5 separate regions of the Homo sapiens genome follow, and regions 1, 2, 4 and 5 are each reported to be linked to region 3. Evidence: microRNA targets listed by miRTarBase, many of them from high-throughput screens and not tested one by one. Region 3 holds a microRNA gene; each other region holds the end of a gene's coding sequence.
The links. The annotated mature microRNA hsa-miR-5588-3p reads AAGUCCCACUAAUGCCAGC and lies in region 3 at 1,508-1,526, shown strand. An mRNA with a match to its seed (bases 2 to 7 or 8) in the 3' UTR can be bound and repressed. Matches are read on the target gene's strand: a 7mer-m8 pairs with bases 2 to 8, a 7mer-A1 pairs with bases 2 to 7 and ends in A, and an 8mer does both.

Region 1 (4,000 bases), not on the chromosome of region 3:
GAAAAGAAAAAAACAATCAATTTTATATCTCAGGCACTTTACAAGTGCTATTATATTTCTGTGGTGAGTCAGTATGCCTTCTAATACTTGACTTGAGCAAGAAAATGTGAATTAGGCAATTTCTTCTTACTGAATATGATTAAGACATTTTGGTACCATACAGTGGGAAATATTTCCCTCTTGCTGTAGTTGTCTTCCATAAATTTTGTTAATTGTAATAGCTAGATATTTGTTTCTGCAGACGTTGTTAAGTTTGGTAGTACCCGGTGCATTTAGCAGTAACATTTCGTTTTTGTTTTGGAATGTTATTCAATATTGCAGCAGAATTTTGATAAGAAAAGAAAAGCAAAAACTAATAAGAAGATGGATCACATAAAGAAGAGAAAAACAGAGAATGCTTATAACGCAATCATAAATGGGGAAGCTAATGTCACCGGTTCCCAACTCCTAAGCAGTATTTTACCAACTTCAGATGTGTCACAACATAACATTCTCACGAGTCACAGCAAAACCAGACAAGAAAAGAGAACTGAGATGGAATACTATACCCATGAGAAGCAAGAGAAAGGCACTTTGAATTCAAATGCAGCTTATGAACAAAGTCATTTCTTCAATAAAAATTATACCGAAGATATTTTCCCAGTGACACCACCGGAGTTAGAAGAAACCATTCGAGATGAAAAAATAAGAAGACTTAAGCAGGTGCTGAGAGAGAAAGAAGCAGCTCTTGAAGAAATGCGTAAGAAGATGCACCAAAAATAAAATCTCCTGTAAAGACTTCAGTGAAATAGCTGTTTTTTAAAATATACTTCAGCATTAATAAGTTAATTGTAGGTGTGTTCTGAAAGTGTCTTTGAATATGAAGCTTGTTTTTTCATCAGTCGATTGTACAACTTTAAGGAATACAGAAAAGGTTGATTCACATATGACTTGTGAATAATTTACATGGGGTATCTATACCTTTGTCTTAGATACCTTTTTTTGGAAGGATAAATTTTATATTTTTCTATTATTTTAACTAGAATTCTCCAAGTTTGAATATTTGGGCAGGGTTTTTGTTATTGTTTGTATCTTTACCTAAATTGCTCAGGCATTATTCCAGCAGTAGATAGTGACTGTGTATTACTGAAATTTTACAATTCAAGAGAGGAAATCAGCTCCAAACTTAGCTTTTCCAGTGGATTTGTATATGTACTTGCTTTATCTCTTTACCCTTAAAATGATGATACCTTGTATTCACCATTGTTTTTTTTAATGTCGTGAAATAATATGTATTATGGCAACATTATTTAAACATTCAAACATTTCTCAAGAATGAGCAACATTTGTAACTTTACAATGTAATTTTATATAATCCAAAGGTATTTTAGAATTCAGGCCATTTGATGTTTTGTTTGCTTATAGTGATGTGTTCCCAGGCAAATGCTGCTTTTTTTTTTTTTGGGACTATGTACATACGTTACTGAGATTGTGTAAAAAGTAGATCCTGAACAGTTATCACATTTAATATTTCTTAAACTGTAAAAGTGTATTTTCTCTGTCTGGTTAATCTTTGATTTGGGAAAGTTTGGGAATGGTGTAGGGATAGGGATTAAGAGATGGGGAGTTAGCTGAGCGTGGTGGTGTGTTTGTAGTCCCAGCTACTCAGGAGTCTGAGTGGGGAGGACTGCTTGAGCCCAGGAGTTTGAGGCCAGCCTGGGCAGCACAGTGAGACCCTGTCTCTTAAAGGAGGAGGAGGAGAACAATGTTATTAAAAAATGATCAGGCCGGGTGCAGTGGCTCACATCTGTAATCCCAGCACTTTGGGAGGCCGAGGCGGGCGGATCACCTGAGGTCAGGAGTTTGAGACAAGCCTGGCCAACATGGCGAAACCCTGTCTCTACTAAAAATACAAAAATTAGTCGGGCACAGTGGCGGGCACCTGTAATCCTAACTAAGGAGGCTGAGGCAGGAGAATCGCTTGAACCTGGGAGGCAGAAGTTGCAGTGAGCCAAGATTGTGCCACTACTGCACTACAGCCTGGGCGACAGAGCCAGACTCCGTCTCAAAAAAAAAAAAAAAAAAAAAAAGGATCAAATCTCTGGAAGTAAGAGAGGTTAAAGAAAAAAAAAATCTGTGCAATGGCAACAAAAGAGTAAATCAGAAAATACTGTAAAGAAGTGAAATACACAGATCAGCTAGATTTTGCTGCTTTCTATTAACAGCTGTTTTGCAATATAATTCATGTACTGTAAAATCCAGCTTTTTAAAGTACACAGTTCTCTGGTTTTTAATATGTTTACAGAGTTGTACAACCATCAACACTATAATTTTAGAACATTTTCAAAATGTTCAAAACATCCCCCAAACAAACCTTATACCCATTAGCAGTCATTCCCCATCACCTCTCCTTATGCCATAGGCAAGCACTAAAAAGCTTTCTGTCTTTATGGAATTGCCTGTTGTGAACATTTCATATATATGGAATCATACAATATGTTTTTCTTTGTGATTGGTGTTTTTTTACTTAGTCTAATGTTTTCAAGGTTTATCCATGTTGTAGCATTTATCAGCACTTCATTATTTATTGCTGAATAATATTCCATCATGGATATACCACATTTTATCCATTCGTTATGAATATTTGGATTGTTTCCACTTTTGGCAGCTACAAGTAATGTTGCTGTGTATATTTGTGTACAAGGTTTTTTAATGGGTATATATTTTCAGTTCTCTTGGGTATATACCTAGGACTGTAATTGCTGGGTCATACAATAACTGTGTTTAACTATGTTTTGAGGAACTGCCAAACTATTTCAGTCAGGTTTTGCTCTCCCCACACCACATAAACATACTGTCAAGGTCACCAGTGACTTCCATATTACTAGATTCAGTAGTCAATTGTCAGTCTTCTTGATTTATCAGCAGAATGTAATTTCATGAATCATCACTTCCTTTGAAAAATGTTGAAACATTCTGTCATAGAAACAGTGCAAATGTATTGTAGAAAATATAGGCCAGGCGCAGTGGCTCACACCTGTAATCCCAGCACTTTGGGAAGCCGAGGTGGGCAGATCACCTGAGGTAAGGAGTTTGAGACCAGTCTGACCAACACTGGTGAAACCCCGTCTCTACTAAAAGTAGAAAAATTAGCTGGGCATGGTTGTGCATGCCTGTAATCTCGGCTACTGGGAATGCTGGGGCAGGAGAATTGCTTGAACCCGGGAGGTGGAGGTTGCAGTGAGTGGAGATGGTGCCACTGCACTCCAGCCTGGGCAACAGAATGAGACTCCGTCTCAAAGGAAGGAGAGAGGGAGGGAGGGAGGGGAAAGAGGAACGGAAGAAGGAAGAGGGGGAGGGAAGGGCAAGTGAAATATTAAAAATTGAAAATATAGCAAGCAAAATATTAAAAACTAGAACTTCATATTCCCATCCAAAGTTTACCACTAATACCTTATATATCCTTTCTGATCATTCTGTGTGCGTCATACATACATATATTTTTGATCAAAATGAGGTCCTTATTTACACTATTCTGAATCCTGCTTTTAAAGTCAAGAATTGGCCTGGCATACTCATACCTGTAATCCTTACACTTTGGAAGTCTGAGGCAGGAGGATCACTTGAGGCCAGGAGTTCGGCTGGGCAATGGCAATAGACCCCATCTTTGCCAAAAATTTAGCCAGGTGTGGTGGCATGTGCCTGTAGTCCCAGCTACTTGGGAGGCTGAGGTGGAAAGATCACTTGAGCCTAGTGGGTCAAGGTCGTAGTGAACTGTGAACATGCCACTGCATTCCAGTCTGGTTGACAGAGTGAGAACATACCTTTAAAAAAAAAAAAAAAAACAGCAACCTTGAGCTTTCCCTTTCAGTGTTTTCATCTCTAATACTAAAGCTAAATTTACCAATTTGGCCTCAAAACGTTTTTTACCACTGGTTTTTCTAAAGCAGTATTAAATCTAGGTCTATGTGTCTTATCTAGCTGTTATACCCTGTAGAGCTTTTAAGTGAGTGGTTTTGTT
Region 2 (4,121 bases), not on the chromosome of region 3:
CGCCTCGGCCTCCCAAAGTGCTGGGTTTACAGGCGTGAGCCACCGCACCCAGCCTGCCTGCTTATTCTTATCCAAATATTTGAGAGATTCTCTTCTTCTAACTCCCAGTAAACCACGCTGGAAGTAGTGGAGTAATATATATACTAATTATAACTATATATAAAACTGATATAATTAGGGTATGGGATGGATGTTCATACTATTTCCATGAAACTTACTTTTTTTCTTACTGCCTTTTCAGGTTGGTTTTATGACTGGACCCAGACCTATGATATTGCATTTTATTTTAGTGGCTTCTGCGTCCTGCTGGGAGGTTTTATTCTGCTGCTGGCAGCCTTGCCCTCTTGGGATACATGCAACAAGCAACTCCCCAAGCCAGCTCCAACAACTTTCTTGTACAAAGTTGCCTCTAATGTTTAGAAGAATATTGGAAGACACTATTTTTGCTATTTTATACCATATAGCAACGATATTTTAACAGATTCTCAAGCAAATTTTCTAGAGTCAAGACTATTTTCTCATAGCAAAATTTCACAATGACTGACTCTGAATGAATTATTTTTTTTTATATATCCTATTTTTTATGTAGTGTATGCGTAGCCTCTATCTCGTATTTTTTTCTATTTCTCCTCCCCACACCATCAATGGGACTATTCTGTTTTGCTGTTATTCACTAGTTCTTAACATTGTAAAAAGTTTGACCAGCCTCAGAAGGCTTTCTCTGTGTAAAGAAGTATAATTTCTCTGCCGACTCCATTTAATCCACTGCAAGGCACCTAGAGAGACTGCTCCTATTTTAAAAGTGATGCAAGCATCATGATAAGATATGTGTGAAGCCCACTAGGAAATAAATCATTCTCTTCTCTATGTTTGACTTGCTAGTAAACAGAAGACTTCAAGCCAGCCAGGAAATTAAAGTGGCGACTAAAACAGCCTTAAGAATTGCAGTGGAGCAAATTGGTCATTTTTTAAAAAAATATATTTTAACCTACAGTCACCAGTTTTCATTATTCTATTTACCTCACTGAAGTACTCGCATGTTGTTTGGTACCCACTGAGCAACTGTTTCAGTTCCTAAGGTATTTGCTGAGATGTGGGTGAACTCCAAATGGAGAAGTAGTCACTGTAGACTTTCTTCATGGTTGACCACTCCAACCTTGCTCACTTTTGCTTCTTGGCCATCCACTCAGCTGATGTTTCCTGGGAAGTGCTAATTTTACCTGTTTCCAAATTGGAAACACATTTCTCAATCATTCCGTTCTGGCAAATGGGAAACATCCATTTGCTTTGGGCACAGTGGGGATGGGCTGCAAGTTCTTGCATATCCTCCCAGTGAAGCATTTATTTGCTACTATCAGATTTTACCACTATCAAATATAATTCAAGGGCAGAATTAAACGTGAGTGTGTGTGTGTGTGTGTGTGTGTGCTATGCATGCTCTAAGTCTGCATGGGATATGGGAATGGAAAAGGGCAATAAGAAATTAATACCCTTATGCAGTTGCATTTAACCTTAAGAAAAATGTCCTTGGGATAAACTCCAATGTTTAATACATTGATTTTTTTTCTAAAGAAATGGGTTTTAAACTTTGGTATGCATCAGAATTCCCTATAGATCTTTTTGAAAATATAGGTACCTGGGTATCACACATAGAACTTTTAATTCTGCTGGTGTAGGCTGTTGCCCAAACATCTATAATTTTACTGAGCTCTTCAAGTGATTCTGATAACACAGCCTGGATTGAGAATTTTTATAAGATTGGCAATGGAAAAACATTTATTCTTTTAAATAATAATTTTTTTAAAACCCAAGAGGTCAGGGGATTTTATAAACCAATAGCCAAGTGTTCTTTAAATAGGAGGCACCCTTCCCATTGTGCCAAAATCATCTTTTCATTTATTTTGAAATTTGTATGATTATTTTATACTTGTATGTTGCCTTTCTTCGAAGGCGCCTGAAGCACTTTATAAACACAAATCCTCACAATACCTCTGTGAGGTAGGTAAATAGTACTTTTCTATGTAGTAAACCTGGAATATGGAGAATTTCATAACAGTTCATTCTACTTAATAATGCAATAATGGAGCTCCAAGTTGTCTTGGACTTCTACACCACACTCAGACTTCTGGAAAGTTTTCTGTACCTCATTCTTTAGTCCCTGTCAAGGTTAGTAAATAAAATAAGTGACATAAAAAAAAAAAAAACTAAACTACTTGTTGTGTTGAAAGTTCCTTTTTGCCAGTTATGTTCAGGAAACCCAATAACCTGAAAAAGTTTGACTTTGATGTGACATCTTCATATTCATCAATGCTGATAATTGTCCAAAGGCATCTTCACTATGTCTGCTAAATAACATCCAATGTGGGCGTTATCTGTTGTCTAGGGGATGAATTTTAAGTTACAATAAAATATTTTTCTTTGTTTTGCATCAGTTTGGTTGCTTTTTCTCCTCTTAGTTCTCCACCCAATTATAGTGACATGTCACTTGAATGTAAAACTATAAATTACCTGGCATAATTCAGACTCTGGAACATGGTTATTGGACAAAAGCATATTCAAAATGCTTAGCTACTTTTACCATTGCCTTCCAAAAAGCTAGTTTATCAGCTTTACCTCTTGTGGTAAAGAGTACTCTGCAGGTCTTAGTTCTTAATAATAATTTATAGAATTCTTAATATGTTTCAAGCTTATGTTGTTTAACCCTCATAATAACCTTGTGAGATGGAGATTATGACCCTCATTTTATGATCTAAAACATAATTGTCATAATACTATGGACAACATATTATAAAAGCATAAGTAATTTCCAAAATCAAAATGCAAAATTTTTCTCTTTGTAGAAATTAAAGTAAACCCTTTAATTTCTAACATGGTTCAGAAATTAGCCCTGGCCAGGAGGGTTGCTCTAAAGCCAATCCTTTAGTGAACAGAGAAAATTTTCTGTAGGGTAATCATGTCAGCAGGGAAGAAGGTTCAGCCACCGACCTTTAAAGGGCTCATGAGGAACAGTTCCCAAGAACCAGGAGTTCCAGTACTGGGAGGTCATGACCAAACATTTACGCCAGCCAACCAGTCCAGTGACCTTAGGTAGCCTCGGTGCTTAGCAGTTGGTATAGAATTATCCTAACTCAGGATGTTCCAGGACATAAAGGGGAGCTCCATTTTGAAACAAAGGACATCTCATTTTCTCTTTTACTTAGAAGGAATATTATATTGAACACATAAAATACATGATTTACATTAGCAGTGCCATGCACTTTCTCCTTCATTAGTAACAATCTTGGGCGGGGTACAGTGGCTTATATCTGTAATTCCAGCAATTTGAGAGACTGAGTGGGTGGATCACTCGAGGCCAGAATTTGGAGACCAGCCCGGTCAACATGGTGAAACCCCATCTCAACTAAAAATACAAAAATTAGCCAGGTGTGGTAGCACATGCCTGTAATCCCGGCTACTCAGGTGACTGAGGCAGGAGAGTCACTTGAACCCAGGAGTTGGAGGCTGCAGTGAGCCAAGATTGCACCACTACACTTCAGTCTTGGTGACAGAATGAGACCCCATCTCAAAAAGAAAAAAATATCTTGGGACCGTCTGCTATATAGTCAATTGTATATGAAGGATGTCAGTAAAATCCCTCTTTGAGGAAGGAGTTTAATCGCACTCAGTTAAAATGATCAGAGCTCTATGAATACATGGATAATACTTGGGACTGCAGTGTACATACTTGTTAAGGTTGTGATTCCACAACCAGATTGCCTATCTCAGTCCCTGTGGCCAGGTGACTGTGAGCGAATTATTTAGCCTCTCAGAGCCTCAGTTTCCTCATTTATAAAACACATCATAGGGCTATTGTGGGAATTAAATAAGATTCCCAATATATATACCTGATATGTAGTAGATGTCCAATAAAATATTAGCTATTATTTTTGTCGTTGTCATTCTTAAATGTATTGCTTCTCTGTACCTGAGGGAGGCATCAAGTGTTCCGGGAACAGGTGTAGGGTTAATGTTTGCATTAAAGGGCTTCATTTGGAAGAATAATGAGCCTCTGTTATTCCTAATCACATAATTGTCGCAGCTTTTGCCTGTTCTTGTCAAAATCTTCTTTCCCTAGGGATTCA
Region 3 (4,149 bases):
TAGCCTGGTGGTCTCTCGGTTAGCTTTACAAAGGCAGTTGAGTTTTGGGGAAGGGCTATTATCATTTAAACTATAAACCAAATGTCTCCCAAAGTTAACTTGGCCTAAGCTCAGGAATAATTAAGGGCAGCTAAAGGCAAGATGGGGTTGGTTAAATCAGATCTCTTTGACTGCCATAATTTTCTCACTGTTAGAATTTTTGCAAAGGCTGTTTCATTAGTACCCTACTCATTTAGGTGAAATGAACAATGTGTATTTTATGTGTTCCAGATGTGTATCAATATCACATAACTGTCAGGGAGGGCCCCAGGTATCTGTCCCTGTTCAGAAAGATCATGAAGATGAATACCGCGATGAGGACAGCTTGCCCGTCTCAGCGAACTCAGAACTTGTCCTCAGTAGCCAGCCCCTATGGGCCAAGGGGTTACAAACTTCGACTTGCCGGCAATTACAGCTGTTTTCCATCATTCTCCTTGCTGTACCTTCTGGTGGGAGCAGCATGGGAGTTAATAAAGGGAAAGCGACAAGCGTCTGTAGAGCGCCGGGTGGGGTCTCGGGAGAGGAGGGCTGGGTGGGAAGAGGCGCGGCGGGAGGCGGCGCCCCGGCTCGCATTGGCCCAGCCGGCGTCCCTCCTCTGGAGGAGGCCGGGCGCGCCCGGAAAAGTGGTTTGCCTGACGGCGAGAGGCAGAGGTGCCCTCGGTGATAGAGGAAACATGGCCGAGTATACGCGGCTGCACAACGCCTTGGCGCTAATCCGCCTCCGAAACCCGCCGGTCAACGCGATCAGGTAACGGGCTCGGTCGCCTCCAGCCCGGGGACCGTGCGGGCCTTAGCCGCCCTCTGGCTCCGGAGGCTTTGACTCTCCCCCGTCGGTTTAAACCGAGAAGGACACTCAAGAGTTGAGCAACTGGTACATGCCAGGAACTTTTTTTTTCTTTTCTTTCTTTCTTTTTCTTTTCTTTTTTTTTTTTTTTAACCTAGATTAGCTTGGTTAATCTTCGCAGGGAACTCTCGTCCCCGTTTTACTGATAAGGAAACTGAGGCTGAGGCTGAGACAGATCAACACTTAGGGAGTTGGCCTCGACCTGTCCTTCATGCGGAGCCCTCCTGCTTACTTGCAACTTTGGCTTTGCAGGCCGACTTTTTATTTTTCTTTTTTTTTTTTAATTATACTTTAAGTTTTAGGGTACATGTGCACAACGTGCAGGTTAGTTACATATGTATACATGTGCCATGTTGGTGTGCTGCACCCATTAACTCGTCATTTAATATTAGGTATATCTCCTAATGCTATCCCTCCCCCCTCCCCCCACCCCACAACAGGTCCCAGTGTGCAGGCCGACTTTCTAATCCAAAGGTCTTAACTTAGTTTGATGTTGGACTTTGATCCAGCCTCACTCCCCTTCTTTGAGTCCAGGCTGTCCTTACAATGTTTGGCTAAAGGCTTTAGGAATAGGGCAATCACTGGCATTAGTGGGACTTTTTTTTTTTTTTTTTTTAATGTTAAAAGTCCCACTAATGCCAGCTCAGTGATTAAAGCAGAATTTTGCCCTGGCCCGGAAACGCAAAATTATTTCTCCTGATTTGTTTAAACCTCAGGACTTTGGTGCTTCCAAGGAAGACTCACATCAGACTAAGCCTATGCAATAGCATTTTCTGAAAAATTGCACCTTATCTTCTTTTTCTCACTGGGGAGTATTTGCCTTGTGTGGTGCACTTTAAACATTAAAAAGTGAGATCAATGTTGCCTTTTTGAAAAGTAATGATTATTTGGTTTGGTCCTTCTACATCTCTTAAAAAAATAATTATATGTCAGCCTTGAAAAAGAATTACCTATCCACAGGGAATAAGATTAGTGGAAATTATAATTTATCAAGAATATATAAAGCATAGAGAGAAAGGTCTTTGGTCAAAATTCTTATAACATGCTGCTGAAGCAAAGAGACTGAAATGAGAAGACCTGCTAATTTTAATAGAATTTAAAAATCCTACTGTCATTGGATTTGATTTATCATTAGTATTAATATTAATTCATTATGAATTATTGCATTTAATAATGTCAAAAAATGCAGGACTAAAATCACATAAGGATGACATGTCTACTAACTTGCCATTCCCAGAATAAAAAGCAAAATATCTGTTATATTGGTTTTGACAAAGAAAAATGTAAGTAATATGATTACATGTCAATTTTGGACTGGTCTATATACTGATTAGAATTGCTAGATATTAGGACCTTAGGGGGAAAAGTTCCATACTCTAATACCCATGACTAGGAATATTTTCTGACAACTGTTTTTTTTTTTTCTTTTTTTTTTAAGCTCATTTGCTTGTTTTGAGACGGAGTCTTGCTCTGTCGCCAGGCTGGAGTGCAGTGGCGTGATCTCAGCTCACTGCAACCTCTGCCTCCCGGGTTCAAGTGATTCCCCTGCCTCAGCCTCCCGAGTAGCTGGGACTACAGGTGCGTGCCACCACGCCCAGCTAATTTTTTGTATTTTAGTAGAGACGGGGTTTCACCATGTTGGCCAGGATGGTCTCAATCTCCTGACCTCGTGATCCACCTGCCTCGGCCTCCCAAAGTGCTGGGATTACAGGCATGAGCCACGTGCCCAGCCTCTGACAATTGCTTTTAATATTTCTGGAATTTAACCTGCTCTCCTTGCCCACCCATGCAACCACCTGTGCCACCCCCATCCTCTTTGCAGGAGAAATGTTAGGGCCTACCTCATAAAGTTGTGAAGTTTAAATCAGCTGGAAATTATGAAGTGGCATTTAATAGATGTTAGTTATTCCTATTAGTCAGAAGACCTGTTCAAGCCCCAAAAACAGGCCCTGCTACTCAGGACCCACTTCAGTTTCATCAAGAAGATATTCTCCACTTGGGAATAAGTACTTCTCTGCCCTTTTTTGTCTGTCTTCTGAACTTTTTTAGGTAGAAATGGACATCCTAGGAGTTCCTCAAGTTTAACAGATTCCTCAATTTTTTTCTTACACTTTTTCTTTCCTCCCTTTCTTCCTTTTCCCCTTCCTATTTCTAATTTTATATGGGAAGTCGTCTCCTCCTAGCTGATTGAGAGATTCTTACTTGAGTGTAATACACACACACACACACACACACACACACACATATAAATTTTTTCCCCAAAACAAATAGTTTAAATCCTTCATTGCTAGTTTAGCCAGCCATGTTTGCTTCCATTCAGATAAACACCAGCCCTCTTTATAAGTATAGGACATGCCTGATTAATAGGCCTGTCTCCCAGAACAATGGCTTTCACACGATTGCTTTACTGTAATCCACAGAGTAAGAAAGCTCACGTTTTTACGTAGCAATTCAAGACACACTTACATACAAACACGTAACCGAAAGCAGTTTCCTAAAACAAAACCTATCCTTACTTGGTATATTGTTTGATATAGTCTATTTTCTCATCTCTTCTTTTTCTTTGAAAAAATCCTGGTCACAAGCCACAAACTTGATTTGATGACTTTTGGTTTAAAAAAAAAAACTGTCTAAAAAAAAAAGGAAAGACCTTCTATAGTCAAAGAAGCTGAAGAGTTTTGGTCAGTAGTCATGAAATGCTGTCTCTACTCCAGACTCTATTTCTTCATGCCTGACAGTATTAACAGGAGAAAATAATTTCATAACTTCTGCGGCCTTTACATTGCTATGACTCTCTCTGTCAGCTTGAATCTAGTAAAGTGCGTATCTGTTATAGCTATTTTCATTTTTTTCCTGTTTTTGATATTTGCAAAATTATGAACATAAAAAAGGAAGATAGGTTGAAATGGGAAAAGCTGGTTTCTTCTCCTCAGTGGCACTGATTGAGCTAATTTTGGCTAGTTTTGTAAGCATTGTTTATTCAGAAGGAAATGTGTGCCTTTTGGACTTTTTGATGTTATATAATGGTTCTGAATTTGCTTTTCATGGTCAGATTTGGCTTCTAATTAACCAGCTGAAGCCAAGAGGTTTTGTCTGATTTCATCTAGGTTAAGAGGTGAAAAGTAATTAGGTGTAAGGGAATCATTATAAATAAGGGCAAGTATCCTTTTTATTTCTTGGGGTTTTAACTAATAGTTGTTGGTCTTAACAATATGGCCTTTACAGAAGTTTGTTGTTGTTTGTTTTGTTTTAAAATTTATTTTTAA
Region 4 (4,149 bases), not on the chromosome of region 3:
CACGCCTGTAATCCCAACACTTTGAGAGACCAAGGTGGCGGGGGGAGGCGGGGTGTGGGCCATGAGGTCAGGAGTTTGAGACTAGCCTGGCCAACGTGGTGAAACCCCGTCTCTACTAAAATACAAAAAATTAGCCAGGCATGGTGGTGGGCACCTGTCATCCCAGCTACTTGGAAGGCTGAGGCAGGACAATCACTTGAACCTGGAAAGCGGAGGTTGCAGTGAGCTGAGATCGCGCTATTGCACTCCAGCCTGGGCTACAAGAGCCAGACTCTGTCTCAGAAAAAAAAAAAAGAAAGAAAAAAGTCATTACGTTGGCTGGGCGGGATGGCTCACGCCTGTAATCCCAGCACTTTGGGAGGCTGAGGCAGGTTGGATCACTTGAGGTTAGGAGTTCCCGACCAGCCTGGCCAACATGGTAAAACCCCGTCTCTACTAAAAACACAAAAGTTAGCTGGGCGTGGTGGCGTGTGTCTGTAATCCCAGCTATTCAGGAGGCTGAGGAAGGAGCATCGCTTAAACCCAGGAGGCGGAGGTTGCAGTGAGCTGAGATTGCTCCACTGCACTCCAACCTTGGTGACAGAGCGAGACTGTCTCAAAAAAAAAAAAAAGTAATGTGTCATTTAATGACAGAGGTAAGTTCTGAAAAATGCATTGTTAGGCAATTTCGTCACTGTGTAAACACCATAGAGTATACTTACAAAAACCGGCTGGGTGCGGTGGCTCACGCTTGTAATCCCAGCACTTTGGGAGGCCGAGGTGGGCAGATCAAGAGATCAGGAGTTCAAGACCAGCCTGACCAACATGGGGAAACCCTGTCTCTACTAAAAATACAAAAATTAGCCGGGTGTGGTGGCGTGCTCCTGTAATCCCAGCTACTCAGGAGGCTGAGGCAAAAGAATCGCTTGAACCCAGGAGGCGGAGGTTGCAGTGAGCTGAGATTATACCACTGCACTCCAGCCTGGGCGACAGAGTGAGACTGTCTCAAACAAACAAACAAAACCCTAGATGGAACAGCCTACTATACATACACCTAGGCTACAAACCTGTACTGCATGTTACTGAATACCGTAGGCAATTGTAACACAATGGCATTTGTGCATCTTAACGTAGGAAAGGTACAGTAAAAACACAGTATTACAATCTTAGGGGACCACTGTCATATATGTGGTCTGTCATTGACCAAAAACACTGAATGCATGACTGTGAAAAAGTAAGCACTGTGTAAAATTCCACCATCCAAAAATATAAAACTGCTTCAGGGGTGGTGATGAGAACACTGGAGTAAGCTGGGAGAAATGACCAGCCCAGGATGCACAGAACAGGTCCGACTGGCTAAGGTGGCTGCCAGGTTCCCCCAGGTGTGCTTCTTGCTAGAGCAGGGGTATATTGGCCCAAGCTGGCAAAGAGGGGATCACTATGGTACCCAGTTACTTGCACCTTGGAAGATTTCTCAAGCTGAGTTATTAGGCTCTCAAGGAACTTATCCTTAAGATAATAAGTAGAAGAGGCAAGTGAGGGGGCAGTGGCTTTAGTCACCAATACCAATCCTGCATGTGCCAAGGGTTACTAGAAACCCTGATTCTCCAACAGTGATTCTCAATTGGGGGTGATTTTACTGCCGGGGGCATTTAACAATGTCCGGAAACATTTTTTGGTTGTGGGGGGGTGCTGCTATTGCCACCTAGCGGGTAGAAGCCAGTGATGCTACTAAACATACAACACACAGGGCAGTCCTCACAACAAATTAACCAGCCCCAAATGTCAACAGCACGGAGGTTGAGAAAGCCAGTTCCAGTGATAGCAATGCTCCAGTTGAGTGTGTATAAGACGACATTTTGAACTGCCAAGGTAGAAACTACCTGGTAGGAGGAGACAGCTCTTCCATAGCCTTCTGGTAAAAAAAAGTCTAAGCAAGTGGCCAGGCGTGGTGGCTCACACCTGTAATCCCAGCGCTTTGCGAGGCTGAGACAGGCAGATTACCTGAGGTCAGGAGTTCAAGACCAGCCTGGCCAACATGGTGAAACCCTGTCTCTACTAAAAATACAAAATTAGCTGGGCGTGGTGACGCACGCCTGTAATCCCAGCTACTTTGGGGGCTGAGGCAGGAGCATCACTTGAACCCAGGAGGCAGAGGCTGCAGTGAGCCGAGATCGTGCCATTGCACTCCAGCCTAGGCAACAAGAGTGAAACTCTTTCACAAAGAAGAAAAAAAAAGTCTTAAGCAGCTATCACCACTCTAGTAAAGCTAAGTATGTCTTCATTCCAATTTTAGCCGGATACTTACTAAGAATCAGGCACTGCCATTCTGTCATCAAAATGGAACAGATTTATTAGGATGCTCACAAGAATGGAGAACACATGAACTAGCACTCTCCTCATGTGACAGAGAGTACATCTGACCCACATGGTGGCAGGACACAGGGGAAGGGCTCTCAGAGCTGGTGCCAAGTGTCCACCAAAGAAAGTCCCATTCACCAGAGACAGGCTGTTTCCTTGGACTCCACCATCTCTGTTACAGCTACCAGCCAGGTCTCCATGATCTTCCTGGAATCCTTCATGCCAGCATCAGTTCATGCTCTCTGAGCTTGTCACTCCCGACTCTTTCAAGACCCAGGTCAACTGCCCCATGGCTCACCCACCCAGGCTGCCTCCGGAGTCCTGCAGCACATCTCTTTGGTATGCTGCTGCCCTGCTACCCTCAAGGGCATGGTTGTGGGTAGGGGGAGAACATCAACATCACATTACCAAAAGCAAACAGCAGGGGTACATTAGTAAACGACACTTGGACATAGCCGAACAACCTCACAGAACACATGCTTCCTCCCCAAATGATACCTAATCCCCCAAGAGCAAATGAAACCCCTTGATCACTTGAACACGTATGAATGATTCTGTGTGCCAGGCACAGGGACACACAATGAATGCTGTTTAATTCCACCACACCCCGCACACAACAGGAAGCTAGTGGCTGAAAGCTGGAACCAGATCTCTGTCCTGGCTCCATCAGCTTTCTCCTGGCTCTTTCTGCCTTTCAACGGTGCCACCACCCTGCTTCTGTCTGCTCTGAACACTTGTTCCAAAAAGGGAGGATAAAAGGATGAAGGATGGCAGAGGGAGGGAGGAAAGGAAGGGGGATAGCAACCCTGTAAAACAGAACAAAAACAACACAAAAATCCAGAAACCAGATTTAGTACTACATTTTATAACAATAGAGAGTAGCTGAAAATACTACATGCTAACACAGATAATATGATACACAACCTCAGGGGGGAAGCTGGCAGGGAGCACGTGGCAGAGGCCACAGGTTTAGACTAAGAGCCTTTCAATGGACTGCTGAATGGATTGGATCTGCTGTTTCAGCTGCGAGCCTTCTTTGATGGTGACAGAACAGGCGATGACAGGCCTGGAGACCCCACAGGCTCTCCCCAGGGCCTGCTTGGAGCGCACAAACACGTAGGGCACATTCTTGTCTTCACACAGCAGCGGCAGGTGCAGAATGATCTCCAGTGGCTCGGCGTCTGCAGCCATCACGATGAACTCAGAGATGCCCCTGTTGAGGGTTTTGGTGGCTGCGGAGAGAAGGACGTGAAGCTAATAGGTGATGTGGGCTTGGGCAGGGCAGCCACAACAAACTGGGAAGAATGCCTAGGCACACACAATTATGTGTCCTAGACCGGCCCTGGGATATGATAAAGGATTCAAACACCAGTCAGTCATACACAATGGCATTTTCTCAAGCCCTACATTAAATCCACCACTTATCCTCAAAACACGTCCTGAATCTGACCACTTCTTCTTCTTCTTTTTTTTTTTTGAGATGGAGTCTTGCTCTGTCACACAGCTGGAGTGCAGTGGTGCGATCTTGGCTCACTTCAACCTCCGCTTCCCGGGTTTAAGTGATTCTCCTGCCTCAGTCTCCCAAGCAGCTGGGATTACAGGCACGTGCCACTGTGTTTAGCTAATTTTTGTATTTTTAGTAGAGAGAGGGCTTCACCATGTTGTCCAGGCTGGTCTCAAACTCCTGACCTCAAGTGATCCACCCACCTCGGCCTCCCAAAGTGCTGAAATTACAGGTATGAGCCACTGTGCCTGTCCTAATCTGACAACTTTTTTCTTTCTTTTTTTTTTTTTTTTCTTTTTTTGAGA
Region 5 (4,139 bases), not on the chromosome of region 3:
GCTGCTCAACGACCGCATCTGGCTGGCTCACCGCTGGAGAAGCCGAGCTGAGAGCAGCCACTACTTCCAGAGCCTCGAGGTCACCACCCACATCCTCAGCCAGTTCTTTGGTACCACCCCATCTGAGAAACAAGGTATGGCTTCTCTGTTCCGTTACATGCAGCAGAACTCTGCAGACAAGGCAAACTTCAACCAGGGCCTGTGTGCCCAGAACAATCATGCTCCCTCAGACACCATCCCCGAAAGCCCCAAACTGGAGCAGCTGGTAGAATCCCACATCCAGCACTCCCTCAATGCCATCTGCACAGGGCCAGCAGCCCAACTGTGCCTGGGCGAGCTTGCTGTGGTCCAGAAATCCACACACCTCATTGGCTCTGGCTCAGAAAAGATGAACATACAGATCCTGGAAGATACCCATAAGGTGCAGCCCCAGCCCCCTGCCAGCTGCAGCTGCTACTTTAACCAGGCCTTCCACCTGCCCTGCCGCCACATCCTAGCCATGCTCAGTGCCCGCCGCCAGGTGCTCCAGCCCGACATGCTGCCGGCTCAGTGGACGGCAGGCTGTGCTACCAGTCTAGACAGCATCCTGGGCAGCAAGTGGAGTGAGACCCTGGATAAGCACCTGGCAGTGACTCACCTCACCGAGGAGGTGGGTCAGCTGTTGCAGCACTGCACCAAGGAGGAGTTTGAGCGGAGGTATAGCACCCTGCGGGAACTGGCCGACAGCTGGATTGGGCCTTATGAGCAGGTCCAACTCTGATTATTCTCGATGCCCAGAGATGCTCATGCACCTGTGCACACTCACATCCACCCATACACACACACACACACACACACACACACACACACACACTCCCTTACACTGTTGTACTTCCGTGGGCCCTCCTTCCAGAACAAGGACAACAAGGACAAGGTTGAAGGGTCTTCTCATCTACCATGGCCTGCTACCTAGCATGTGTCTAGCTCAATGAGACAGGAGTCAGCAAATCTTAATCTGTTTAGTTTACTCAGGTGGCCACATACAGTCTCTGTTGTATATTCTTGGTTTTGTTTTAATATTTTTTTTCTTTTTTTTTTTTTTTTTTTTTTTGAGAAGGAGTCTGTCTCCGTCACCCAGGCTGGAGTGCAGTGGCGCAATCTCTGCTCACTGCAAGCTCCACCTCCTGGGTTCACACCATTCTCCTGCCTCAGCCTCCCGAGTATCTGGGACTACAGGCGCCCGCCACAATGCCGGGCTAATTTTTTGTATTTTTAGTAGAGACGGGGTTTCACCGTGTTAGCCAGGATGGTCTCGATCTCCTGACTTCGTGATCTGCCCGCCTCGGCCTCCCAAAGTGCTGGGATTACAGGCGTGAGCCATCGCACCCGGCCTGTTTTAACATTTTCATAAGGTAAAAACCTTTCTTAGCTCAAAGGTCTTTAAAAAAGCAGGCAATCCAGCTGGGCATGGTGGCTCACGCCTGTAATCCCAGCATTTTGGGAGGCTGAGGTGGACAGATGACTTGAGGTCAGGAGTTCAAGACCAGCCTGGCCAACATAGTGAAACCCTGTCTCTACTAAAAATACACAAATTAGCCAGGTGTGGTGGCGGGGGCCCTGTAATCCCAGCTACTCGGGAGGCTGAGGCAGGAGAATCGCTTGAACCTGGGAGGCAGAGGTTGCAGTAGGCCAAGATCCTGCTGCCACTGCACTCCAGCCTGGGAGGGTGAGACTCCATCTAAAAAAAATAAAATAAATGGCAACCCCTGGTCTAAGATAAGAGATAAAACATCAGGTGGTGAGGTTGAGGTTTGGGGCTTGGTAGCAGTTGCCCCAGTCATGAGATGACTCACTTAACCCGTCTCCTTTAAGTGAGCTGGGCTGGGAGGCTTCCTACAGGGGAAGAGGCCCCTCTGGGGAGCTGACTCAGCCAGGCTCCCTGAACTTTTTTCCTTGTCCCATCCTGGGGTCAATAAAACTGAATGTTGCATATTCTAGCACTTGTCTAGTTTTTTTTTTGTTCCATAGAAGGCAGTTTAGGGTATATCATGGAGAGAATAGACTTTAGAGTGTTATACAACATGTGAATCCTGGTTGGTTCCTTCCCTGCTTGATTTTTGTGCCTGGTTCTGCCTTTTACTAGCTATGAGACTTATTAGGATAAGTTACCCCTCTAAACCTCAACCTGATTATCTGTAAAAATGGGGATCTCCACAGGGTATGTTCACAGAGCAGGCATACCTAGTGGGTGCTCAATTAAGTATTAATTTTCCTTCCTTGCCTATGGTCCTATGACCTGCCTTCAACATGCTGGGAAATTTAAGGCAAGAGGAGAATTCAAATACCTAGGACTTAATATAAGAAATTCTGGCCAGGCATGGTGGCTCACACCTGTAATCCCAGCACTTTGGGAGGCCGAGGCAGGCGGATCACCTGAGGTCGGGAGTTTGAGACCAGCCTGACCAACATGGTGAAACCGTGTCTCTACTAAAAATACAAAAATTAGCCGGGCGTAGTGGCAGGCACCTGTAATCCCAGCTATTCGGGAAGCTGAGGCAGGAGAATCACTTGAACCTGGGAGACGGAGGTTGCAGTGAGCCAAGATCATGCCATTGCACTCCAGCCTAGGTGACAGAGCAAGACTCTGTCTAAAAGATAAAAATTAAAAAAAAAAAATTCTGGGTAGGCCAGGTACGGCGTCTCACGCCTCTAATCCCAACACCTTGGGAGGCCAAAACAGGCAGATTGGAGCAGCCTGGGCAACATGGCAAAACCCCTTCTGTACAAAAAATACAAAAATTAGCTGGATGTAGCACGTGCCTGTAGTCCCAGCTACTCAGGAAGGCTGAGGTAGGAAGATCACTTGAGCCCAGGAGGTTGAGGCTGCAGTGAGCTGTGATTGTGCCACTGCACTCCAGCATTGGTGACACAGTGAGACCCTATCTCAAAAAAAAAAAAAATTCTGATCAAGTCTTCAAAACAACATAAAAGCAGCCTTAACTCTCCAAGCAGGGGCCCCTACCTCAGATAATTTCCATTGTATCTACCTGACAAAACCTATCTCCTGTCTTAGTGGTATCTGGAGAAACTTTAGGGTCTGGAAGTCCCTGATGAAGGACTGGAATTTGTCAGAATGGCTCAACCACCAGCTCTATCCCCATCCCTGCCATAGGCCCTCCTCCCAACCCTGTCTGCCCAAGAACCATACGGAGAAACCACCCTACATATCTGGTGCTATTTCATCCATCTACAAGCAGGAGCCAGGAGGCTGGCCCCTTTTAGATCTCACTAGGGGCATCTTCCCAGAGGCTGTGTGGGCATGTGCCTGCTCCCACCGCGCCCCCTCCACAGCACCCTCTGGCTCCGGATGGGCCATCATGAAAGCTTGAGCGGCCCAGATCAGGTCCTCTTCCCGAACTCCTGGGACGGGCACGGTGGGGATGCCAGCGATCATCATGGCGAGGGTGAGGATGCAGATATCAGGCTGGGAGCTGGCCTCCTTCCCCACTGCCTCAGAGGGTACCGGTAGAACCCGTGGTGACAGCCCACACAGCATCAGGGGCCTAGGCCTGCTGGGGCCACCCAGGTCAGGGGCTCTGCTTCTGGAGTAGCCATTGTCCCAGCCCAAGCTCTCCAGCTGCCTCACATGCGGGAATTTGTGGCAGTTTCGGCTGTATTCCTTCCGTAGTGTCTCCCAGCTAGTCCCCCCAGGGCAGCCCCTGGCTTGTGGCATTGCCAGGGCTGGGCCCCAGGCCTGGGCAGCAGGTGCCACCTGCTCAGCTTTCTGGCTCAGTGGGCCTGTTCCACCAGAGGCCACCACCACTGGCTCTACAGGACTACAGAGGCCAAGGGACAAGCCTGGAGAAGCAGCCCCACCTGCAGAGACAGGAATGAAATGGAACGTTATTCTCAGTTCTTTGAGGAGGGGGCCCTGAGGGGCAGGGCATGGGAGCAGAGCTTGGGGGCGTAACTAAGACCAGCCCCAGCGGACTGTCTAGAGGTTGGGAACTAGGTGTTACTCATATCCACACTCCCAGTCCCCAACACGGAGTAGGTGATGGAGAAGCGTTTGTTGAATTAATGAATAGTGAGCAAGCGGGTAGTTATTGATTGGCAAGGATGTTTGGAATGGCTTTTCTTCTAAAAGAATTGATTCTAGG

Region 1: miRTarBase lists LRIF1 as a target of hsa-miR-5588-3p. Seed matches in the 3' UTR shown: 8mer at 1,442-1,449.
Region 2: miRTarBase lists SLC16A9 as a target of hsa-miR-5588-3p. Seed matches in the 3' UTR shown: 8mer at 646-653.
Region 4: the mRNA of SNU13 is a reported target of hsa-miR-5588-3p. Seed matches in the 3' UTR shown: 7mer-m8 at 2,467-2,473.
Region 5: miRTarBase lists ZSWIM1 as a target of hsa-miR-5588-3p. Seed matches in the 3' UTR shown: 8mer at 1,205-1,212.

Annotation. Positions count from the first base shown.
Region 1 is chr1:110,944,721-110,948,720 of GRCh38, reverse strand. It overlaps LRIF1 (ligand dependent nuclear receptor interacting factor 1), which reads left to right. Exons shown (of 4, transcript NM_018372.4): 4 at 322-1,531. The coding sequence ends at 762. Among named protein-coding and RNA genes, the nearest start is that of LRIF1, 17 kb to the left of the region's middle.
Region 2 is chr10:59,649,071-59,653,191 of GRCh38, reverse strand. SLC16A9 (solute carrier family 16 member 9) reads left to right here. Exons shown (of 6, transcript NM_194298.3): 6 at 242-2,428. The coding sequence ends at 420. Among named protein-coding and RNA genes, the nearest start is that of SLC16A9, 59 kb to the left of the region's middle.
Region 3 is chr3:185,250,587-185,254,735 of GRCh38, reverse strand. MIR5588 (microRNA 5588) reads left to right here and starts at 1,464; the gene lies at 1,464-1,526. It overlaps EHHADH (enoyl-CoA hydratase and 3-hydroxyacyl CoA dehydrogenase), which reads left to right and starts at 687. Exons shown (of 7, transcript NM_001966.4): 1 at 687-787. The coding sequence starts at 714.
Region 4 is chr22:41,671,624-41,675,772 of GRCh38, forward strand. SNU13 (small nuclear ribonucleoprotein 13) reads right to left here. Exons shown (of 3, transcript NM_001003796.2): 3 at 2,310-3,572. The coding sequence ends at 3,310. LOC107985567 (protein LLP homolog) reads right to left here. Exons shown (of 1, transcript XM_047441692.1): 1 at 3,579-4,149. Among named protein-coding and RNA genes, the nearest start is that of SNU13, 15 kb to the right of the region's middle.
Region 5 is chr20:45,883,291-45,887,429 of GRCh38, forward strand. ZSWIM1 (zinc finger SWIM-type containing 1) reads left to right here. Exons shown (of 2, transcript NM_080603.5): 2 at 1-1,976. The coding sequence ends at 760. It overlaps SPATA25 (spermatogenesis associated 25), which reads right to left. Exons shown (of 2, transcript NM_080608.4): 2 at 3,201-3,855. The coding sequence ends at 3,227. Among named protein-coding and RNA genes, the nearest start is that of SPATA25, 2.3 kb to the right of the region's middle. RefSeq lists enhancers at 3,043-3,543, 3,544-4,044.